Regions from separate parts of the Homo sapiens genome. Here region 1 is linked to region 2. Evidence: fine-mapped expression QTL. A gene starts in region 2. The other region holds a variant in brackets. All regions are shown on one strand. Distances are between the middles of the regions. Region 1 holds the start of LINC01872 (long intergenic non-protein coding RNA 1872). Region 2 holds the start of IGLON5 (IgLON family member 5).

Evidence for each region. PIP is the estimated chance that this variant, and not a neighbour inherited with it, causes the effect.
Region 1: its variant is fine-mapped to the expression of IGLON5 in cerebellum (GTEx, PIP 0.97).

The regions. Positions count from the first base shown.
Region 1 is chr19:51,264,550-51,275,619 of GRCh38, reverse strand. SIGLECL1 (SIGLEC family like 1) reads right to left here. Exons shown (of 6, transcript NM_001385465.1): 3 at 9,971-10,252; 4 at 9,738-9,843; 5 at 8,091-8,247; 6 at 6,290-7,049. The coding sequence ends at 7,023. LINC01872 (long intergenic non-protein coding RNA 1872) reads right to left here and starts at 4,354. Exons shown (of 3, transcript NR_136526.1): 1 at 4,048-4,354. It overlaps LOC107985327 (a long non-coding RNA gene), which reads left to right and starts at 4,453. Exons shown (of 4, transcript XR_007067309.1): 1 at 4,453-4,601; 2 at 5,376-5,457. The variant A/G (reference allele first, on the strand shown) is at 7,609.
Region 2 is chr19:51,305,061-51,316,485 of GRCh38, reverse strand. It overlaps IGLON5 (IgLON family member 5), which reads right to left and starts at 4,842. Exons shown (of 8, transcript NM_001101372.3): 1 at 4,560-4,842. The coding sequence starts at 4,638.

The DNA of each region.
Region 1 (11,070 bases), 41 kb after region 2:
CCATCTGTTGGCTTCACTTTACTGTCAAAATAAACTCCAAAATTTGACAGATTTTGGCAGACTGCTAGAAATACTACCTAACCCTACTTCCCCTCTGTTTCTCTTTCTCTCCTTGGTCAGCTTCTGCCCCTTCACAGTACGCAGGGAAGTAACTCTGTATCTATTCTGACCAGAATGTGAGTTCCTTGAGAAAATTAGTCATGTCCAAATATCTTTTGTGTGTCATGTTGGAATCACCTTTGTGTACCACTTCTGGGTGGCCTTTGTGTGTCATGCCCAAGGTACCTTTATGTGACATAATGGAGTCCACCTTTCAAAGTCAAGTCTGAGTCACTTTTGTGTCTCTAGTACCCAACACACAATCTGGAACACAGCTGGTGCATAATAAAGCTTTATCAAATGAAAGAAGATTTGGAACCAAGAAATTTGGGGTTTTGGCAAGGCGCGGGGACTCACACCTGTAATCCCAGCACTTTGGGAGGCCAAGGCGGGCAGCTCACTTGAGGCCAGGAGTTCGAGACCAGCCTAGCCAACATGGCAAAATCCCTTCTCTACTTAAAAAGCAAAAATTAGCCAGGCGTGGTGGCATGCGCCTGTAGTCCCAACTGCTCAGGAGGCTGAGTTATGAGAATCACTTGAACCCAGGAGGCAGAGGCTGCAGTGAGCAGAGATTGTGCCACTGCATTCCAGCCTGGGAGACAGACAGAGAGAGAGAGAGAGAAAGGGAGAGAAAGAGAGAGAGATAAATAAATAAATAAATAAATCTGGGTTCTAGCTGTGGCTCTGCAGATACCTTAAAATAAATAAATAAATAATACCGAACAATCATGGTGGCCCATGTGCTGTGCACTGGAGATTCACATACTTTATCATTCTCAATCTCACAACAGCACTGTGATGTAGTTCTCAATGCATCACTTCGCAGATAAGGAAACTGAGGCCCAGAACAGCATAGGAACTAGTCAGGTTCACAGGGCCAAGAAATGGACATCCTGAAGTCATAATGTAGGTCCCTGGACTCCGAACCCAGTGTTCTTTCCGGTATGCCAGGCTGCCTTCAGAACTGCTGTGTCATCACGGTTGAAGCCTCTTCTCCTCTCTGAGTCCCATGCTTCATGTATAAAATATGGGAATAAATCAAACTGTCCTGTCCACCTCACAAGGTTTGAGAAAGACAGTGGGAAAAGCATATAGTTTTGCACCATATGAGTTACAAATGTCTTCCCCCTCGACTTGTGTGGTAGGCAAAATTCTAAAGATGTCTCCCATTCCAAGATTCCTGTGCCCTGGTTATTCAATTAAACATTAATCTACGTGCTTCAGTGAAGGGACTTTGCTGACTGAGTGAAGGGACTTTGCTGATAGAGTGAAGGTGACTAATCTGCTGATCTTAAATTGAGGAGATCATCCTGCACTATCTGAGTGAATGTAATGTAATCACGTGAAACTTGCAAAGCAGAAAAGTCAGAGAGATTCAGGAGAAAGAAAGGGCATACATGAGCCAGAAGTGGAGGTCAGAGAGATGTGAAGCATACGAAGGATTTGACTCACCATTGTTTGCTTTGAAGATGAAGGAACGAACCCACGAGCCCATGAGGGCAGCTCCTAGAAGCTGACAATGACCCCAGCAGACAGCTAGCAAGGGAATGCAGACCTCACTACTACAAAGCATGGAACTGATTCTGAATGTGTTTGGAAATGGGTTCATCCAAAGGGACTCGAGAAAGCAACATAGCCCTGCCAACACTGTGATTCAGGCCTTGTGAAAGCTGGAGCAGAAAACCAGGGGAACCACGCCACACCAGAACTTTTGACCTTCTGTGAGATCATACATGAGTGTTACTTTAAAAGCTGCTAAAATTGGGCTGGGCCCAGTGGCTCATGCCTATAATCCCAGCACTTTGGAAGGCCAAGGCAGGTGGATCACATGAGGCCAGGAGTTCCAGGCCAGCCTGGGCAACATGGCAAAACCCTGTCTCTACTAAAAATATTTTTAGAAAATTATCCAGGTGTGGTGGTACTTGGGAGGCTGAGGAATGAGAATAGCTTGAACCCAGGAGACAGAGGTTGCAGCGAGCCGAGATTGCACCACTGCACTCCAGTCTGGGTGACACAGTGAGACTTGGTCTCAAAACAAACAACAAAAAAGCTGCTAAAGTTGTGGTAATTCTTTTTTTTTTTTTTGAGACGGAGTCTCGCTCTGTCGCCCAGGCTGGAGTGCAGTGGCGGGATCTCGGCTCACTGCAAGCTCCGCCTCCCGGGTTCACGCCATTCTCCTGCCTCAGCCTCCCAAGTAGCTGGGACTACAGGCGCCCGCCACTACGCCCGGCTAATTTTTTGTATTTTTAGTAGAGACGGGGTTTCACCGTTTTTAGCCGGGATGGTCTCGATCTCCTGACCTCGTGATCCGCCCGCCTCGGCCTCCCAAAGTGCTGGGATTACAGGCGTGAGCCACCGCGCCCGGCCAAGTTGTGGTAATTCTTATGAAAGCAACAGGAAACCCATACAACTTGGATGTGAAGCCAGTTCAAAGGAAGGGTTCTAGATTCTTCTGTGAGTGGACGGCCAGCAGTCCAAAGGCTTGGTCTTTGCCTCCCATTTTCTAGGTTTTTCTGGGCCAGGCCCTTCCCTCACTAGGGAACTGCTTCCTCATTTAAGATAGTCTAGAGTTTGCAAATTAGTGGCTTTGTGAGGTAGTTAAAATGCAGGGGGTTTTATTTAGCCTGCATTAAGAAAACTGCATACAGACTTTCTTTCATTAGTTGCAATGTTTAAAAATCAGGATCCTCACATAAAAGTCTGAACTCCCAGCTACTTTTTAATAAATTAGATCTGACAACACATGGCAGATATTAACTTTCCCCTTTAATATTGGACAATTGTTCTCCAGTCCATTGCTGCCCCTGCTCTCCCTGCTGCACTCACCTGGGAGGGGCATATAACACAGTGGTTAAGACCGTGTGCTGAGTCAGCCTGCCTGAGTTTAAGTCTGGCGCCACCATTTGCCAGCTGTGTGACTGTGGGCAAATTACTTCCCCTCTCTGGGTTTCCCGTTTCCTCACTTATAACATGTAGATTTTAACAGGATTCATCTGACAGAATTGTTGGGAGCATTAAATGATTAAATGAATGAATGCATGTAAAACCCTCAGAACAGAGGCCAGCACAAAATAAGTGCTAGGCAACTGTTTATCATTCACATCACCTGCCTGGTTCCCTCAGCATTTAATTTGTGACCGCTCTTGACTCATCTCTTTTCTCAGTGATGTTTTGATTCAAGAACCAGCCCTCTGCTTTTCCATTCTGATCGCTGCCTCTCTTAAAAAAACGACTCCCTCCTTACATCAAGATGCTACTCAGGCTTCCAGATAACAAATCCTATCTCTGCATCATAACCCACTTTTGCTTTTTTTTCACTATCAAAATCCTTCCTCCTCCTCCTTTAATTTACAACCTCGAATCAAAGGTTGGGAAGAGCTCTGGGCTGGTTCCAACTGGGGCTTTGCCAGTAACTCGTTGGATAGCTCTGGGCAAGTTCTGTCCCCTTTCTGCTTCCCCCTCTTTTTCCTCCTCGGTAGAATGGGAGGGTTACTGCAGACTATGTAAGGGTCCTTCAGATTCAAAAACTCTGATCTCTCACATCTGTAATCCCAGCACTTTGGGAGGCTGAGGTGGGAGGATCGCTTGAGCCCAGAAGTTTGAGACCAGCCTGGGCAACACAGCGACACCCTGTCTCTACAAAACAATTTAAAAAATTAGCCCGGCATTGTGGGTGCAGCTACTCTGGAAGCTGAGGTGGGAGGACTGCTTGAGCCTGGGAGGTCGAGGCTGCAGTGAGCTGAGATTGTGCCACTGAACTCCAGCCTGGGTGACAGAGCAAGACACTGTCTCAAATTAAATAGATGAATAAAATAATGAAATAAAAATAAAATTCTGATCTCTTTCCAGTCTCACTTCCTTCTCCAGGCCCTGGTGTGTGCGTGAGTTTTCTTCACAGGTGATCTCTTTTCCCTCCCCCTAAATTATCACTTCTTTTTCCATATTTACCTCCCAGTCTCAGGGTCCAAGGAGCTCCAGCCTGGTCCTTCCTCAGCACTATTTCCTTAAAAACCGAATGTCCTCCTGAATTTTTGCATCAAGCGGGTTTGTTTGACTTCCTATTACTGTTTTCAATGACTCCGGATGCGCCCGATGAACTGACTGACACGTGGAATAACCGTGTACACAAACACGGAGTGCCTCACGGGGAAGTGACTAAGGCAGAGGAAGGCTAACGGATTCGCTGAACTGGGAGTCCCCTGAGGCCTCGCCAACCTCCTTGCACGGGGATACCAATCCCTTGAAGCCCCGCCCCGCAAGCTCGCGCGGGTTTGTCCAGAGCCAATCAGGGCCTGACCCTTCTCGCGGGAGCTGCTGGGATGCGCAGCCGCATAAGAGAGCGCGCGGGTCTCCAGAGCCTGAGCTAGTCAGAAGCAACAGTTGCTACTGCGTCCCCCGGACATTGGGAGAATCGTTTTCCTTGGGCAGCTGGTTCCAGACCCCCACCAGTCCTCTAGACTCCAGGCCAATCAGTTGCTAAGGGACGTTCCTCTCTCAACCTGGTATGTGCGGGAAGTCAAGGCATTAACTAAGGCACAAAATGACTAGTGCTGGACCCCAGGGCTGGTCAGAAGGCACCCTGTGTACTCATTGTTTCCTGTCCTGCACGCGAGGCCCCTATCACCGAGAAAACAAGACACACGATGAAGCCCAGCCTCTCTATTCCCATTCCCAAACCCATCTCTGACCTATCTCCAACCCGATCCCTATCCTCTCTCCTATTCCTTTTCTACATTTTTTTCTCTTCTTTCCCAACACTGGCACTCTCCCTCTCCCCAGCCTTGTCTGCCTCTCCCTCCCAAACAGAGGATGTATCTTTAGTAGAAGCAAACACCAAACCTGTTACATAGAGGCTTCTATCCTCAACTCAAAACCTCTGCTGCCCAGGATTCTCACACAGCTCCACTGGATGTGATTCTCAAACAATCTGCACTTTCCAGAATTACAAAGCATAAGAGGAAATAACCCTCCATAAGTGAGGACAAAACCTAAACTTCCCACTAGAGCCCTGGAAGGCCTGCAAGTTCTGGCCCTTCAGGAGCTCATCCCTCAGTCAATTCCAGTCACAGCGGCCTGCTCTGGGCTCCTGAACTCACCAAACTGTTCTCATGTCAGAGCTTAGGATCTACTGCTCCCTCTGTCTAGCCAGCTCCTAATAATCCTATAGGTCTCAAGGCAAGTGTCACTTTCTCTGAGAGGCCTTCTCTGACTCTGTAATCCAACCTAGCTTCCTTTCCTGTGCTTTCTCATAGTATTCTGTCCTGTTTTCTTTCTAGCACTTATCAACATTTTAAGCTATAAATTCGTCTGCATTTCTTCATCGTCTGTCTATGTAGACCATGACTCCACGGAGGCAGGGTGAGTGTCTTACTTCTTCCCCTCATTATCTGGCACATGGTGGCACATCTGATATTTCTGTGAAATGTGAACTGCCTGTGAGAGGTGCTTATACATGTGGGGGCTAACGTAAACGTCCACCCTGAGTATAAGATGACCATCTAGCTGGTGCTACAGGATCACTGTATTTACCCACAAATATTGCCCCAGGGAAGAGATGACCCTCTTTCCACCTACTGAAAACTACTAGCATCTGGCCAGGCACGGTGGCTCACTCCTGTAATCCCAGTACTTTGGGCGGCCGGGGTAGGTGGATCACCTGAGGTCAGGAGTTTGAGACCAGCCTGGCCAACATGGTGAAACCCTGTCTCTACTAAAACTATAAAAAATTAGCTGGGTGTGATGGTGTGTGCCTGTAATCCCAGCTACTCGGGAGGCTGAGGCAGGAGAATCACTTGAACCCGGGAGGCAGAGGTTGCAGTGAGCCGAGATTGCACCATTGTACTCCAGCTTGGGCAACAAGAGCAAAACTCCATCTCAAAAAAAAAAAAAATCTACTAGCATCTGGCTAGAAAGGAGGTTGTCATCCATTCTGAGAGGAACAATACATAGTTGTGGTTCATTCTAATGCCAGAATCCCTTTCCCATTCCTTGCATGCCTGCCTTTCAATCTGGCCAAGAACTATTGCGATAACCTCCTAACTAGCATCTTTACCTCCAGCCTTACCCATTCTAAATATATCATATGTGGGGTCAGGGTACGGAAATGATTTTTCTGTCTATATCTGGTCACTCTACTTGCTTGCTTCAAACCTTAAAACAGCTTATAATTAATTAAATCATTTGACAAACATTCTTGAGATCTTATTGTATTTTAGGCATCATTCTGGGTGCTGGTGATAAAAGTAGAAAACAAGGCAGACAAAGTCCCTGTTCTCTTGGAACTTACATTCTAAGGGAGTCAGGATAAGGTCCTACAAGATAAAGCTCCAAAGCTCCAATGAATCTTGGCATTCAGGGCCCATCGTCATGTTTTTTCTCACCTGCATCTCTGAACAGTACTTTTCACCCATTCTCCACCCAGATATGGGTCATGTGATGTTCAAAGGATGGGGAATGAAAGATCTTGTCCAAAGATAGACAGCCACCAAGCACTGAAGTTGGGATTCTATCCAGATATGAAGGCTTGAAAGCCTGGCGCTCTTGTAGGTGTATCTCAGGCACTGACACACAGTAGGCGCTCAAAAGTAACTTGCTGATGGACTTGATTCATATTGTCACATGTATTTTTCCTTCTTTTGACACCTTCCCAGGGTGGCACAGATTTCTTCTCATTTAGCCAAACAACAAATTACAAAGTGTGTCTTCAGAGGTTCTAAGACTAGGTCTAAGAGTAACCACCTATTCAATGGAGAATGAGTGTTAAGGGATGTGTAGGAATTGAGAGGGTTTTGTGAGCTGAGGAGAGTCCAGGGGGCTCCAGGTTTATTACAGCCTCCAGGGTTTCTGTGAGCGCTATAAATTTTGCAGATCTTTGTAATTCCAGGGATAATGGCGACTCCAGGTATGAGGCATGTTCCACAGGCTTAGCTGGCTCGTTTATCTTGCTTTTCCTGAAAGCGAGGTGCAAAATAGAACAAAGAAAAAAGAATGTTGGAACAGGTCTAGAGGTGAGGTATCCAAATCTTAAAAAGACACCCCCTTGTGCACAGAATTAAGGCAACATGGAGTGAGCACTGGCTTAGCCCTTCCTCACAACCCCATGGTTAAAGCCTGCAACTCGGTCTTCTCCATCTGGTCCTCTCTGTGCATCTTCAGTACCCATAACACTGACTGTTCCTTAGACTCCTCAGGGAATCTTGCCTGACTTCCTCAGGTAGGTTTGGTCCCTCCCTCTTCTGCACCACCGTAACTCCTGGCTCAGCATCCCCTACTGTGAAGGTGCCTTCTCGACCAGTCTAGTTGCTCTCTGAGGACAAGGCCTAGGTTTGGCCCATTTCTGAGACCCCAGCATTGTCGAGCACAAAGATTAGGAGATATTGCAGGAAATATTGGTGGAATTTAACAGATGGCTTATCTACAAAAGGACACCAACTGTTCATGCAGGGTGTTAGGAGGGCAGCAGGATAATTCTGATTCTGGAGAATCATAAACGGTAAATAACAGTGAGGC[A/G]TAGCAACCTCGGACACTGTATCTTCCAAGCCCTGCTGAAGATGTGGGGTACAGGGTGAATGAAGGAGTAACCTGGGCTTGGCCTAATCTCTAACCACTTCAGGCTGACTTGGCCTGTGGCATCTACACCAAGCTGACTGCTGCCGGCCATACACTCAGAGGCCAAATCCTTGGTTTCCACTCTGATGCTACAACTGCTATTAGGATTTTCCCCAACTGCCTTTTCAGTGGGGATTCAATGTAATGGTGTGTGCGTGTAAATTGATTTTAATTGTTCTTTAAATTGTTTCTCTTAACTTTCATCCTTCTCCTCTCTGGGCCTTAGCTTCCTATTTATAAAATGACCTGAAAGCACACTCTAGCATTAGGTATCCTGCAAGACTGAGGATGATAACACCTTCAAAACACTGTGTGCTCCTTTCCCTGTGGGTCTTATTATCAGTATTCCGATAGACTAGATTCCAGACACAATAGGTACATACCAATATCCGGCTCTCAGAAAATGTGGCGACTACGGGTTTTCCTGGTTCCTCAGGCTTCAGAGACATCTCAAGTTCTTGGCTTGCTCTGACTTTAGAGCTCTTTTTTGCTCTGATCGCTGCAGCTTTCTTCGCCTGCTTCTTTCTGATATGTTTCACTCTAAGGAAATAAGCCTTGGATTGGTTCTGGCTCTCCATCTCCCTGAATCCCCAAATGGGCTCTATCTTGACCAGAACTTCTGATTTAGAGCCTCAACAACAGTACCAGCTTGCTGTATGACCTAGGGCAAGCCACACATCCTCTCTGGGAATTAGTTTCACACTCTGAATAAGGGGGATACCCTGCTTATTAGGCTGTGGGGCTCAGATGAGGTCAGCTAAGAAAGGGCCTTGCAACTGGCAGAGAGATTGTTACTGGTCTTCAAGTCCTGTTGATTATACTTTGAAAATAGCTCCTCAGTTTGCCCTGACACCTCACTCCTCATCTTTGTCTCCCCATAGCCAGCCATGCCCAAGTCCCACCTCTCTGGCTGCCCCTCATCACTTGCCCCAGGTCAGGCCTTCTATTTCCTGCTTAGTCCCCTGCACCAGCTTCCTGCCTGGCCTCTGACCTTCTGGCTCTCACTCTCTCTAATCTGTGTCCCACCCCAAGCTCAAGCTTTCCTTCACAGCTTAGCACTCTTCCATGGCTCCGAAATGAGGATTCAGTCCAAGCTGTCTGGACAGGCTCCCCTGCCCGTCTCTCTGGCCTGACTTCCTGCAACTCACCCCTTCCCACTCCATGCTTCTAGCTAATACATGCAGCTAAGTTTTAACACCCTGTGAACCAACACCAAGGATGTCTTTCAACCTCATTTTTAGCCATTACCTGGTACTCTCAATGCACCTGACATTATACAAAGACACTGGAAATGCCTCAAACATGCCTCTGGGCGTCTGCATACAAAGGTTAGATATCCCTTATCTGAAATGCCTGGGGCCAGAAGTGTTTCAGATTTCAATTTTTTTTTTTTTTTTTAGATTTTGGAATATTTGTTTATACATAATGACATATCTTGGGGATAGGAGCCAAGTATAAAAACAAAATTCATTTATGTTTCATATATACCTTATACACATGGCCTGAAGGTAATTTTATATAATATTTAAAATTATTTTGTGCATGAAATAAAGTTTGTGTGCATTGAACTATCACATGAGGTCAGGTGTGGAATTTTCTACTTGTGGCATTATGTCGGTGCCTCGAGAACTTTTGGACTTTGGAGCATTTCGGATTTTGGATTTTTGGATTAGATACTCAACCTGTACTATTAATACTTTCCACCAAGCTAACGAGTACTGAACCCTTGCAGGCCCACCACAGACAGCACCCCGGGGACTCGCTGCTGCCTTTTCCAGGGCTGCCAAGTCCCTTCTTGGTCTTCTCCTTTATAAAATGTGTTCAAAGTGTCTGTTTTATGACACAGTTTTACGGTTCTGTATAGTCCTCATGGCCCTGGATTGTGGTGACCATGTTTGGTACATCTTTCCCTCTTTAGACCCTAAGCTCCTTGAGGGGAGGGGTCCTGTCTTTGCTCTCTCTGTGCCAGGGCTGCAGCCAGGGCCTGCCCGGTAGTAGGCTTGCGGGTGAATATTAACCCTAGTACTCACATGAGAGGGAGGAGGCAGAGGAAGAGCAGCGCAATTACAATTCCCGCATAGATAGCACCCTGGATCAGCCCTTTCACGAAGGCCTGGGCAGCCAAAGAACTCTTTCCTGGAAGCAGAGAGCATGTGAGAAGTTTGGCATCGGAGCCAAAACTCTGCTCCATTCTCTAGCCCCAGTGACTGTCCCCATCCCGCTTATTGTCCTCACCCAGTCACCGAGCCCCCTCCACCCTCACTTGACATCAGTAGGATGCTCAAAGCATGGGTTCCGTTTTGGTTCTTCCCCTCACAGAGAAGTCTCATGCCCATTTCTGGCTCTTCAGTTAGGCTGATGGTGCTGTTAGCCCAGGGGCCAAGCATGGTGGAAGTCACTTGGAGGCTGCCATCCATGCCATCCACACCCACGGGGACTCCTCCCATCCACCACTGCACAGAGGGTGTGGGAATCCCATGGAAGGAACAGCTGCACTGCAGTGTCTTCTCCAAGGAGCAAGAGGAGTTGAGCAGCTTAGCAGGTACTGTGGGGAGGAAGGGTCAGGAGTCAGCAAGGCATCCTGGCTTCCCTCTTCCAGTTTCTCCAGCATGCAGCCTTCTCTTTACTTGCTATTCACAAGGAGCTTCAGAAGGACTTTCTGGAAGCCCACAGGATTCAGGCCTCCCAGACCAGTTCCCCTCTATCTTCTGTCCTCATCTGGCCTGAACCTGATCGCTAGACCTTCTTGAGGGGTGGCAAGTAAATTTCCTGAGGCTCTACATTGTCTGTGATCCCTCACCTACCCTGCAAGGCTAGAAGTCCAAGCCAGACCTCCTACTCTGCTTCTCTTCTTCCCACCTGCAATGTTCCTCTTAGGCTCTATGACCAATTCTCCCTCCATCACTTCCTGTCTGGGTGCTGCTGGGCAAGTCACTCCCCTTATCATTGCTGTTTCCTAGCCTGGAAAATCGGGATATTTGCTGAACCTATCTCATATTATCATCGTTATAAGAATGAATGCCCCAAGATTTGCAGTGCACCCAGCTCAGTGCGTAGTGAAGTATTACCCATTCAATAAACAGAACACCTTTCTTAATTTCCTTCTTCCCGGTCTCAAGTGGTCTTTGGTGGAACATTCACTGGAAGCCAAATGTACTATGGCATCTTCTGTGTAAGAATGCTGGAAATTGCCTCGCTCTATTTAGAACAGGTAGGACATGGTGGCCATTTGATGAATATCATGGATTAGGAGGGAACAGTCACATTCATCAAGGTCTCTAATAATGAGGAATCTGTCTTCAGTGTTGACACACACTTTTTCGTTGAAGTTTTTTGAGGTTACTGGAAGAAAGGGGTAATTTT
Region 2 (11,425 bases):
AAGAAAAACAAAGAAAAAAAAAGAAAAAATCTGAGGGCATTAGCGTCACCGACACCAGGGGAGTCCAGACACTGTGCCAAGAATCCTGAAACTAGACACACCTTTTCTTTCCCTTTGTTTCTTTTCTTTTTTTTTTTTTTTGAGACAGGGTACCACTGTGTCACCCAGGCTGGAATGCAGTGGCACCATCTTGGCTCACTGCAACCTCCACCTCCCAGGCTCAAGCGATTCTCCTGCCTCAGCCTCCTGAGTAGCTGGGACTACTGGTGCGTGCCACCATGCCTGGCTTTTTTTTTTTTTTTTGTAGATATGGGGTTTCCCCATGTTGCCCAGGCTAGTCTTCAACTCCTGAGCTCAGGTGATTCACCTGCCTTGGCTTCCTGAAGTGCTGGGATTACAGGTGTGAGCCACTGCGCCCAGCTTTACCCTCCTTTCTGTTGGTCCCACCTCAAGGTCTTTACCTCTGCTGTCAACTTTGAAAGGTTGACTTCCGGCGGGGCGTGGTGGCTCACGCCTGTAATCCCAGCACTTTGGGAGGCCAAGACGGGCGGATCATGAGGTCAGGAGATCGAGACCATCCTGGCTAACACAGTGAAACCCATCTCTACTAAAAATACAAAAAATTAGCCAGGCGTGGTGGTGGGCGCCTGTAGTCCCAGCTACTTGGGAGGCTGAGGCAGGAGAATGGTGTGAACCCAGGAGGCGGAGCTTGCAGTGAGCTGAGATAGTGCCACTGCACTCCAGCCTGGGCGACAGAGCAAGACTCTGTCTCAAAAAAAAAAAAAAAAAAAAAAAAAGGTTGACTTCCCTCTTCCTTCAGGTCTTAACTCCACTCTCCCCTGCTCAGAGATGGTTTCCTCAACCACTTGAGCTTCAAAGGCCAAGTCACTTTTATCTTCTTTACATTACTCATCACTCTCTGAAATTATCTTTTATTTGTTTGTCTTTAGGTTTTGGTTTTGGTCTTTGATCTCTCTCCATCCCACTATGATCTAAGCTCCGTGAGGACAGTGACTGCCTGGTTCACTCACTGCCATATGTATATATCCAGTGTCTAGAATAGCGGCCCTGGTCCCCAAGAACATTTGCTATATGAACCAACAACCAAGCACAGCCCACAAGCCAGATGAACCTGGAGCTCAGAGGTCCTGGGGAGAGCTAGCTTGTCAGGGGCAGTGCTGGGACTCAAATCTGGGGCTCCTGCCCCCTCCTGACCATCATCACTCTGCTAGCTGCCCCAGAAGCAAAGGAACCACCCACCTCATTTGCTGCTGCAGAAGCGGCCATTTGATTTTGTTGAATTGTTTTAAAATACCACAATGTAGCTGCTTTGTAAATAAATATGTATATGTGAGGGGGTGCGTGTGTGTTGGCATAAAAGATTTAGAAAAGAATTGAAGATAGATGAATATTTATGGATGTAAGGGAGGTATGGTTAAGTGGGAAAAGGCCGATTGCAGAGAAATGGGCTTATTTTGTTTCTATTTTGGGGGAAAAAAATCAACAAACCAACCAATCCATCACTTATGTTGTCCTCTGTGTGTCGTGTCTAAGTCTGCAGAAGTGAGAGAAAGCTATGGAAGGATGCACTCCAGCCACAGACCGGTTCTCTCAAGACAGTGGTTGTGAGAGTGGTGGCAGGGCAGGAGCACAATGGGGTTTGCCCTTATCAGAGGCGGACTGTTTGCAGTGTATTCCTCTTGTAACTTGGACAAGATCATGAATAAAAGAAGAGAGAAGATGCTAGTTTGCATATCTTGCCATAAGCTTTTTTTCCCAGACAGCTCAAACTATCCATGGGTGGGTGGGGGTGTCTTTCTGGCATCTCGTTCTGTCTCAACCCCACCCCATCCCCTCTCGTCCCCAGTTCTCAAAAGGGGAACCTAAGACCAGAGATGGGAAAAGACTTGAGCAGGGTCACAAGCCACCTCCTGGCTCTGCCACAGCTTCCTGCCCCAGTCTAGCCCCGTAATGATTTATAGGGACTTTAAGAATGAATGTGGGGGCCAGACAGTGGCTCATGCCTGTAATCCCAGCACTTTGGGAGGCTGAGGTGGGCAGATCACCTGAGGTCAGGAGTTCGAAACCAGCCTGGCCAACATGGTGAAACCCTGTATCTACTAAAAGTACAAAAATTAGCCCAGCGTGGTGGCACACACCTGTAGTCCCAGCTACTTGCGAGGCTGAGGCAGGAGAATCACTTGAACCCGGGAGGCAGAGGTTGCAGTGAGCTGAGATTATGCCACTACACTCCAGCCTGGCAGCAAGAGTAAAACTCTGCCTCAAAAAAAAAAAAAATAGTGAATGTGAAAAATGGGAAGTTGCAGTGAGAGAGAGAAGGGGAGGGAGAGAAGAAACAGGAAAGTGGGGGAAAGGTCACAAAGGGTACAGGATCAGGGAAAGAAGAGGAGGAAGAAGAAGACAAGAGATAAGGACAAGGAGAGAAAGAAAGAAGAGGTGGCTGGTGCAGTGGCTCACACCTGTAATCTCAGCACTTTGAGAGGCCCAGGTGGGAGGATCACTTGAGGCCAGGAATTTGAGACTAGTCTGGGCAATATAGTGAGACCCCCATCTCTACAAAGAAAAAAAATTAAAAATTAGCCAGGTGTGGTGGCGTGCATCTGTGGTCCCAGCTACTCCAGAGGCTGAGGTGGCAGGATCGCTTGAGGCAGGGAAATTGAGGCTGCAGTGAGCTGTGTATGCTTGCACCACTCCACTCCAGCCTAGGTGAGAAAGTCAGACCCTGTCTCAAAAAAACAAGAAAAAGAAAGAAAAAAAGAGAAGAAAGAAGAAAGAAAGAAAGAAAGAAAGAAAGAAAGAAAGAAAGAAAGAAAGAAAAAGAGAGAGAGAGAGAAAAAGAGAAAGAAGGAAAGAAAGAAAGAAGGAAAGAGAAAGAAGGAAAGAGAAAGAAAAAAGAGAAAGGTAGGTCAGAACAAGAAGGAAATGAATGAGAGAAGGAAATGAGAGAAGTTAATGAAGATTAAGGCATAAGTGAGGAAGCAAGCAAGTATCAAGAGACTGAGTCATGCAATGGGCAACAGTCTGAAAAGCAGAGACAGACAGATGTGGAACTGTGCTGTCAGCAGCAGGGATGGAGAGACAATGACCCAGAGACAGAGGCAGGTGGAAAGTCAGCAGTGGATAACAGAGATGGGAAGGGATGGGAACCTCCAGAAATGGCAGGGACACAAAGACCTAAAGAGATGCATGACAGAGACAGAGACAGGTGGTCAGAAAGTCAGAGGGCGATTCAGACTGGTCAGGTGGGAGACGGGGGAGGACTAGCAAGGGACTGAGGCTGTGGCCCACCAGGTCCCTGCGTCCTGCGTGGATGGGGCTGTGTTTGTGTGACTGGTGTCTGCAGGTGCTGCTTCGGGTGGGACGCTGTGACGGGGTTTCTGTGCCAGACTTGGTCTATGCGGGCGGCCTCTCTGAGACTCTTGGGGACTCTGTCGGGGTTCTTGGTTGTCCCTGGAACTCTTTGTTCAGGGGAGGGCCTGGGGGAATCCTCCAGAAAGTCTGAATTAACCCAGCTCCCTGCCCTCCTGAGCGCCCACCCTCCAGCCTCCTGCCTCCTTGCACTCTCCTCCCTTTTCTTAGGGGGAAATCTAGGAATCTCCTTGACCACCCCCTGCCTGCCAGGCCCTACTGGGGAGACTCAAGGTCCAGCTATCTAACCTCAGTGCAGAAACCTGCCCCTGGCCCTCTCCCCAACTGGGAGGGCCGGGCCGGGCCGGGGTTAACCCTTCAACCTGCTTTAACCCTTCCCTTCCGTCTTTCCTTCATCCTCCCATGCCCATCGCTCTTCCACTGTCCAGCCCCACGAACCTAGACATTCAATCAGAGCTTGGGAATCCAAGACCCCAGCCCAGCACCCCAACTTCCTGTATCTCCAGCTCCCTTCTCCCCCACATAACTGCAACCTCCCCAAGTACCAACACTTTCTCTCAACCTAGATGACCCTGCTGGGGGATTTCAGACCCTTCCCCTCTTTTCCTGACCCTGGGACTAGGTCTGTGGACACCCTTGTCCCCTCCTCTTACTGACCCTGGGAAGGCATCCATCCCCTGACCTCTGTCCCGAGATGACTACCCCAGCCCCCGGCAAGGACCTCTTCAGGGACCCTCTCCACGTACAGATGAAGACCCCTAACAGGGCATTATCCCCTGCCCCCCACCCCAACTCAGTTCGGAGATCCGACCCGGGGACCCCGAGTCCAGTGTCTGCCCCCTCCTCAACAGGAGCCGCAGACTCCTGCCCCCAGGCAGGGCTAGGTGTCTGCGACCCTCTTGCCTGCTCGGGGAAGCAGACCTCCGCCCCTAGACCCGGCTCCGGCCCGAGGACGCCGACCCCTGCCCCGGGGCGCGGACCCCCACGTCCGAGGTCCCCCTGCCCAGCCAGGGAATGCAGACCCCACCCCCGGGCCCAGACCCCGGCGTCCCGGGGCCTCCCCGCGCCGGCCCAGGGATGCAGCCCTCGACCCCCACCCCTGATCCCCCGATTACCCACCCAAGACCCTGGCGTCCCGGCCGAGCCCCCCGCCCCCGGCGCTGCGGTACCTCGGCTGATGACGGCCAAGCCGGCCAGGGCGGCGGCGGCGAGAAGCCGGAGCCGGGCCCCGGGCGCAGGGGGGGGCATCGCGGCAGAGGCGGCGCGGAGGGGGAGGGGAAAGGGGGGGCCGGTCCGGGGCGCGCGAGGCCTGGGGGGAGAGGGGGGAGGGGGAGGGGGACCCCGCCTGCGCTGCACCGGCCCGGGGGGCGGCGGGGGCGGGGGGAGGGGGCTGGGGGGGCGCGACGAGGCGGCTGGAGCTGCTGCAGACCCGGGGAGGGGGGCGGCGCTGACGGGCAGGGAGACCGGCCAATCAGGAGAGGTGGGGGGCCGGGGAGGCGGGGTCAAGGGGGGGTTGCTTGTTGGAGGGAGAGGCCTTTGTTACTGCGGCCCGGCCCCTACCCCTCCCGCCCCAGGCGTCCCCACGTCTTTCCACCACATCCGCAGAACACGGAGTCTGGGATACTTCCTAAAACCCAGCTCCCTCCTCCTTCAAGTCCCAATCTCATCCTCCCATGGACCTAGGAGACTAGCCCCAGTCCCTCCTCTCTCAGACCCAGGAGCCCAGGTCCCCAGCCCCTCCTCCCTCAGACCCTGGAGTCCAGGCCCCCAGCCCCTCCTCCCTCAGACCCAGGAGTCCAGGCCCCCAGCCCCTCCTCCCTCAGACCCAGGAGTCCAGGCCCCCAGCCCCTCCTCCCTCAGCCCAGGAGTCCAGGCCCCCAGCCCCTCCTCCCTCAGACCCAGGAGTCCAGGCCCAGCCCCTCCTCTCTCAGACCCTGGAGCCCAGGCCCCCAGCCCCTCCTCCCTCAGACCCAGGAGTCCAGGCCCCCAGCCCCTCCTCCCTCAGACCCTGGAGCCCAGGCCCCCAGCCCCTCCTCCCTCAGACCCAGGAGTCCAGGCCCCCAGCCCCTCCTCCCTCAGACCCAGGAGTCCAGGCCCCCAGCCCCTCCTCCCTCAGACCCTGGAGCCCAGGCCCCCAGCCCCTCCTCCCTCAGACCCAGGAGTCCAGGCCCCCAGCCCCTCCTCCCTCAGACCCAGGAGTCCAGGCCCCCAGCCCCTCCTCCCTCAGACCCTGGAGCCCAGGCCCCCAGCCCCTCGTCCCTCAGACCCAGGAGTCCAGGCCCCCAGCCCCTCCTCCCTCAGACCCAGGAGTCCAGGCCCCCAGCTCCTCCTCCCTCAGACCCTGGAGTCCAGGCCCCCAGCCCCTCCTCCCTCAGAGCCAGGAGTCCAGGTCCCCAGCCCCTCCTCCCTCAGGCCCAGGAGTCCAGGTCCCCAGTTCCTCCTCCCTCAGACCTAGGAGTCCAGGCCCCCAGCCCCTCCTCCCTCAGACCCAGGAGTCCAGGTCCCCAGTCCCTCCTCCCTCAGACCCTGGAGTCCAGGCCCCCAGCCCCTCCTCCCTCAGACCCTGGAGTCCAGGCCCCCAGCCCCTCCTCCCTCAGACCCAGGAGTCCAGGCCCCCAGCCCCTCCTCCCTCAGACCCAGGAGTCCAGGCCCCCAGCCCCCTCCTCCCTCAGACCCAGGAGGCCAGGCCCCCAGGCCCCTCTTCCTGTGGGCCACAGTTCAGCTTTTCCATCTATTTTCATGGATAACGAAAACACTGACTTTTGGAGTGAAATTTGCTTTTTTCCTCCACCCCAACCCTCATCCCCAGTATAATAAGGCAATGGGAAGGGATTGGGGGACTTATCTTGGGGGAGCAGGTGGGGAGGAAACCATAATCCAGGGTTTAGGTGCAAAACATCCTGGCTCCCTGTTCTTTCACTGACTTGGCTGTGTGACCTTGGACAAGCCATTTCTCTTCCCAGAACCTCAGCGTCTTCCCCTGCAAGGTGGAAAATTCCCTATTGCCCAAGGTTATTGAGAAGAATGAGAGATCTTGGAGCAGCTCCTGGCTCCAGCCAGCACCTCAAAAACCTGTAGTGAGTTTCTCCCTCCCCTTTCCACTTTGCATCTGTTTACTAGGTGTATTCCACCCTCCTGTTCCCGTCCCCTTGGCATACGCAGGAGCAAAATAATCTCTGAGTCTACGTTATTTCTGTAGCAGTTCAAGGCAGGAGCTTTTGAAGTTACCCAGTAGGGGCTGTTCTGCCTCAGAAACATATCCATCCTCAATTCCTTCCCCCTCCACTCACATCCAATTTGTCTGCAAGAACCGCTGGCTCTGTCTCCAAAACAAATCTCTGCTTTGTCCTTTTCTTACTCTCCCATCCTGGTCTGAGCTTTCACCACCTCTCCCTGTAGGACTCTGGCTGTAGCAGCCTATGCTCTACTCTCTTGGCCTCTACCTTTGCCTCCACCTTCAGAACAACCACCACTAAACACCTGGACCAGCTAGGGCCACTCCCTGCCTCAATCACTCAGCTCGCTGTGACCTTCTTTCCATTCCTTAAACAAACCGAACAATTCCAGCCCCAGGGTCTTTGTACTTGCCGTTCTTTCGCTGGAATGCTCTTCCTACCACACTGGCAGATGACTCTTTCTTATTTAAGGCTCATCTTCTCCCCTTTAAGAAGCCTTCATTGATCATAGTTTCCAAAGTAGCTGCTACTCCCAGCACAATAACTCTACGTCATACCTCTTCATAGCACTAACAATGTTCTTTTGCCTTTTCCTTTTCTTTTCTTTCTTTCTTTCTTTCTTTCTTTTTTTTTTGACAGAGTTTTGCTCTTCTTGCCCAGGCTAGAGTGCAATGGTATGATCTTGGCTCACCACAACCTCTAACTCCTGGGTTCAAGTGATTCTCCTGCCTCAGCCTCCTGAGCAGCTGGGATCACAGGCATGCACCATCACAGTCGGCTCGTTTTGTATTTTTAATAGAGATGGGGTTTCTCCATGCTAGTCAGGCTGGTCTTCAACTCCTGATCTCAGGCGATCTGCCCGCCTCGGCCTCTTAAAGTGCTGGGATTACAGGTGTGAGCCACTGCGCCCGGCCGATTTCCTTCTTTCACTGTTATTTTTAGTTGCTCTCCCCCTACTCCCACTTCCAGAATGTAAGCTTCACGGAGTTTTTTGTTTTTGTTTTGGTCTGCTTTTGTTCAAGGCTGGATTTCCAGAGCCCAACCTAGTGACTGACATGTAGTACGTACTCAAATAAATACGTACTGCATGAGTGAGTCGGATGGCTTAGCTCCGTTTGGAGAGATGGAGGGAAGTAAGATACAGAGGGAGGAAGAGACCTGCCTGCGTTCACAAAACTGGGTGATGCAAAAGTTAATGGTGTTCTGCAGGTGGCTTGCACTGGCTCAAAAGAGCTGATTATTAAATTTTCAGAAATTGTGCAAGCCAGGTGTTAAACCATTATTAGCTTGAAACTGGCCATGTTGGGAGGATTTACACCACAGCAATGGTGAACACTGAATCAGCTTGCCAGCCCACCACTCTACAAAATCCATTGTGATCCTGGTGAAAGGCCATTTATTGATCCTCTTTGAATTCCGGACCGTTCAGACTTAGGATGAGAACAGGAGCTCCCTCTTCCTGAAATGGCCCATCCCATGCCTGATAAAATATGAGTGCTTACTCGGTGTAGGGATCTTTCTAAGCACTTTGTACATATTATCTCCTTGAAGCATCATGACACCCTTCTGAGGCAGCACTTATCTTTATCCCTATTTCACAGGTGAGGACAAAGAGACATGGAGAATTTTTTACATCCCAAGAGCTATAAATGTGTGATACTGTGAAATATATATTTGGTCTTCATAACACCCCCGCTACGTCCACTGGCAAGCCCCAGGTAGCTTCAGTATGGGGGTTGGTCACAGGAAAGAACAAGGCATGATTAAAAGGTTGGGACTTTCAGCTCATCTCCCAGCCTCTGTGGAAGGGAGAGGGAGTGAAAGTTAAGTGGAGCACCAATGGGCAATGATTTAATCAATCATGCGTATGTAATGAATGTTCCATTAAAAAACCGCAAAAGACTGGGTTTAGGGGGCTTCCGGACAGTTGAACACACGGAGGTTCCTGGAAGGTGGCATGCCTGGAGAGGGCATGGCAACTCCATTCTCCTTCCCCTGCACCTCACCCTGTGCGTCTCTTCACCTGTATCCTTTGTAATATCCTTTATAATAAACTGGTAAGCATAAGTGTTTTTCTAAGTTCTTTGAGCTGCTCTAAAAAATTAATTGAAGAGAAAGGTGTTATGGAACCCCAATTTATAGCTGGTCAGTCAGAAGCACAGGTAAAGAACCTGGAGCCTACAATTGGCATTGGAAGTGGGGGACAGTCTTGTGGGACCAAGCCCTCAACTTGTGGGATCTGCTGTGAAGTCCAGGTAGATGTATGAGGATTGAATTGGAGTACACCCAATTCGTGTCCACTGCAGAACTGATTAATTGGTTGCTGGTGGGGAGAAATCCCTACACAATTCTTGGTGACACCAATCAAAAGAGAAGTGTTGATTGTTAAGTGAGAGAATAGAAAAAGCACTTTGGTTGTCTTCCCTATAGCCTCAGATTTGGTGTCAGAAGTGGGATGAGTAAAACAGAAATTGATGGAGTTAGAACAAAAGTCTTAATATAATACTATTTAAGGTTGGGTGGGCCAAAGGGAGTACTTGTTGGTTCCCTAACATTAAAGGGTTCCAAAAAAGTTTGCTGTATTTACCTTAGTTTGGAGAAATTTTAAAAGTCAGAAAGCAAAGATTAAAATAAGACATCTGATCTGAAATTTTCTGGGGCAATAGTCTGGCAGTTTAATCAAGATAAAGATTAACCAACAAGCAAGAGTTCTTTTGCTCAACGCCCTGATGGGGACCTAAAGCCTTATGTACACAAGTGGACAAAATGATCAGGGATGCAGAAGAGAAATTCATGGGACTCCTTGATATGGGAGGTCCACTGACTATGGTACCAACATCCATTGGTGAAGTCCTGACTTGGGATTAGATTGAGAGAATGTAAAAATTTAAGGGTTGTAGTATTGTGAAACCAAAAACCATTGATAAAGTTCTAATAGAGGCTACAGTTAGGAAAGTGAGGGTTGGTGGAATTAAGATAAACCTTTATAGGAGAGTTGGTATATTTGAACACATTTTCTCTGAAGTGATTTTACCTGATTATATTATGGGGATGGATGTTGTATCAGACTGGGAAATGTTTCCCATACCTAGCATTATGAAACAAAAGCCATGTAAATCTGCCTTTAATCAATATTAATTGGACATGCTAAATAGGAACCAGTCAGATCTCTGGAGCCCACAAAATGTAGAATAGAAGACAGAGTGATGCTATGGACAAATTCTCTGAGACAGAGCCCTGTATGGAACCCAGACTGGGGCCTATGGGAACAGCCTATAAGCACCTTCCAGTGACAACTACTGAGACTCTGGACTACAGAATTTCAATTTGAAGAGCATAATACTACTTTCTATGGGATATTAATTCAAGCTACCCCTATGACTGAGGACATAAAATGATCTTGAAGCCTGAAATACCAATAATCTCTTGGATTATGTTTAAAAACACTCTAATGGAGATTAAAATGCCCAGAAGAGTCCCCTAATAAATTAGAAATGATTTATACAGGATCATGCTACCTAGGGAATGCAAGGAGGAGATACTAATAAAAAAGGAGCCTCTTTCTCCCTCGGACTGACTCTGGAAGCGTATGGGGAGCAGCTGGATCCTACTGCCACTTGGACAGTGCCCTATAAACAGCTCTCAACTAGCCAACAAAGAGCTGCTTGGTGTGCAGATGACAGTGCCAAGATGAAAAGACCACGTTCTATTTAGAAGGATGCCATTCTGATCAAAGAAGATAAAAACAAATCCGTCCAGTGAGCTGAATTGCATGCTGAAGAATTGAACAGTGGTAAAAGCCCTTCCGTGTGGGTTTTTACTGACTCACAGGCAGTGGCCAATGGCTTGGCCATATAGTCAAGCAGGTGGATAATGGAAACCTAGCCTATTAAAGGGATGTCCATATGGGACACACACAGCCCTTTGGAAATTTGAGGGGTCCTTAAGGTAGGACATGTCAATGCCCACCAGAAGAGCTCTCTTCCAGGTCTGGAAGGTGATTGAAATCGACAAGCAGATATCCCTGTGTGCTCACTGGGTGGCCACCTGGGTGCATGAAATGAGAGGACATGAGGGCACTGCAGCAGTGCAGAGATGGGCTGAATCTAAATATGTTTCTATTGCACCCTCTCAGGCACATAATGCCAATAAGAACTGTTCTGTTTGCCAGCAGGAGAGACAGAAGCTGCAGATGGCTATGGGCCAGATTCCCTGGTGGGAAGGTCCCAAGCACAGCTGGCAAGTGAGGCTGATGCTGGTAGCCCTGGGGGGCTACAAATGGGTCTTGACAGGAATAGACGCTGACTCTGGGCTGGCCTTTGCTTACCCAGTGGAAGATGCAAATGCTCAGAGTGCTGTAAAAGAATCAGAACAGAATATATTACACACATTTGCACAGGCTGCCGTCATTTCTTCCGACCAAGGAACACACTGTCTAGCCCATAATGTCCAGCAATGGGCAGAGAGCTGTCCTTTGGGTAATAATTTGATCAAGAAGTGGAATGAGCAATTAAAACTTTGGTTGTCAAAAACAGGGGAGATAAAAGCATGAAGGATGTAGCCATAATTTTTTTTAATGTACCCATAAAAATAAAAATTTAAAAAAAAACAGGAAGATTTGGCTTACATGCCCTCCTGTGTGCTCACACTCAACCTGATGGGACTAGAGGAGCGTCACCACTAGACTTTCCTGTTTTCTGGTTGACCTGGGAAAGTGGGGGTAGGGAGAATGCTGGTGTGGCTATGCAATTCTTACCAAGTTGCTATAATGACTATATATTTTTTTCTTTCTTCCAGATATAACCTCATTTTTTTCTCCTACCTGATGCAGTGGTCCTAGTAAAACCAACCCAATTGTC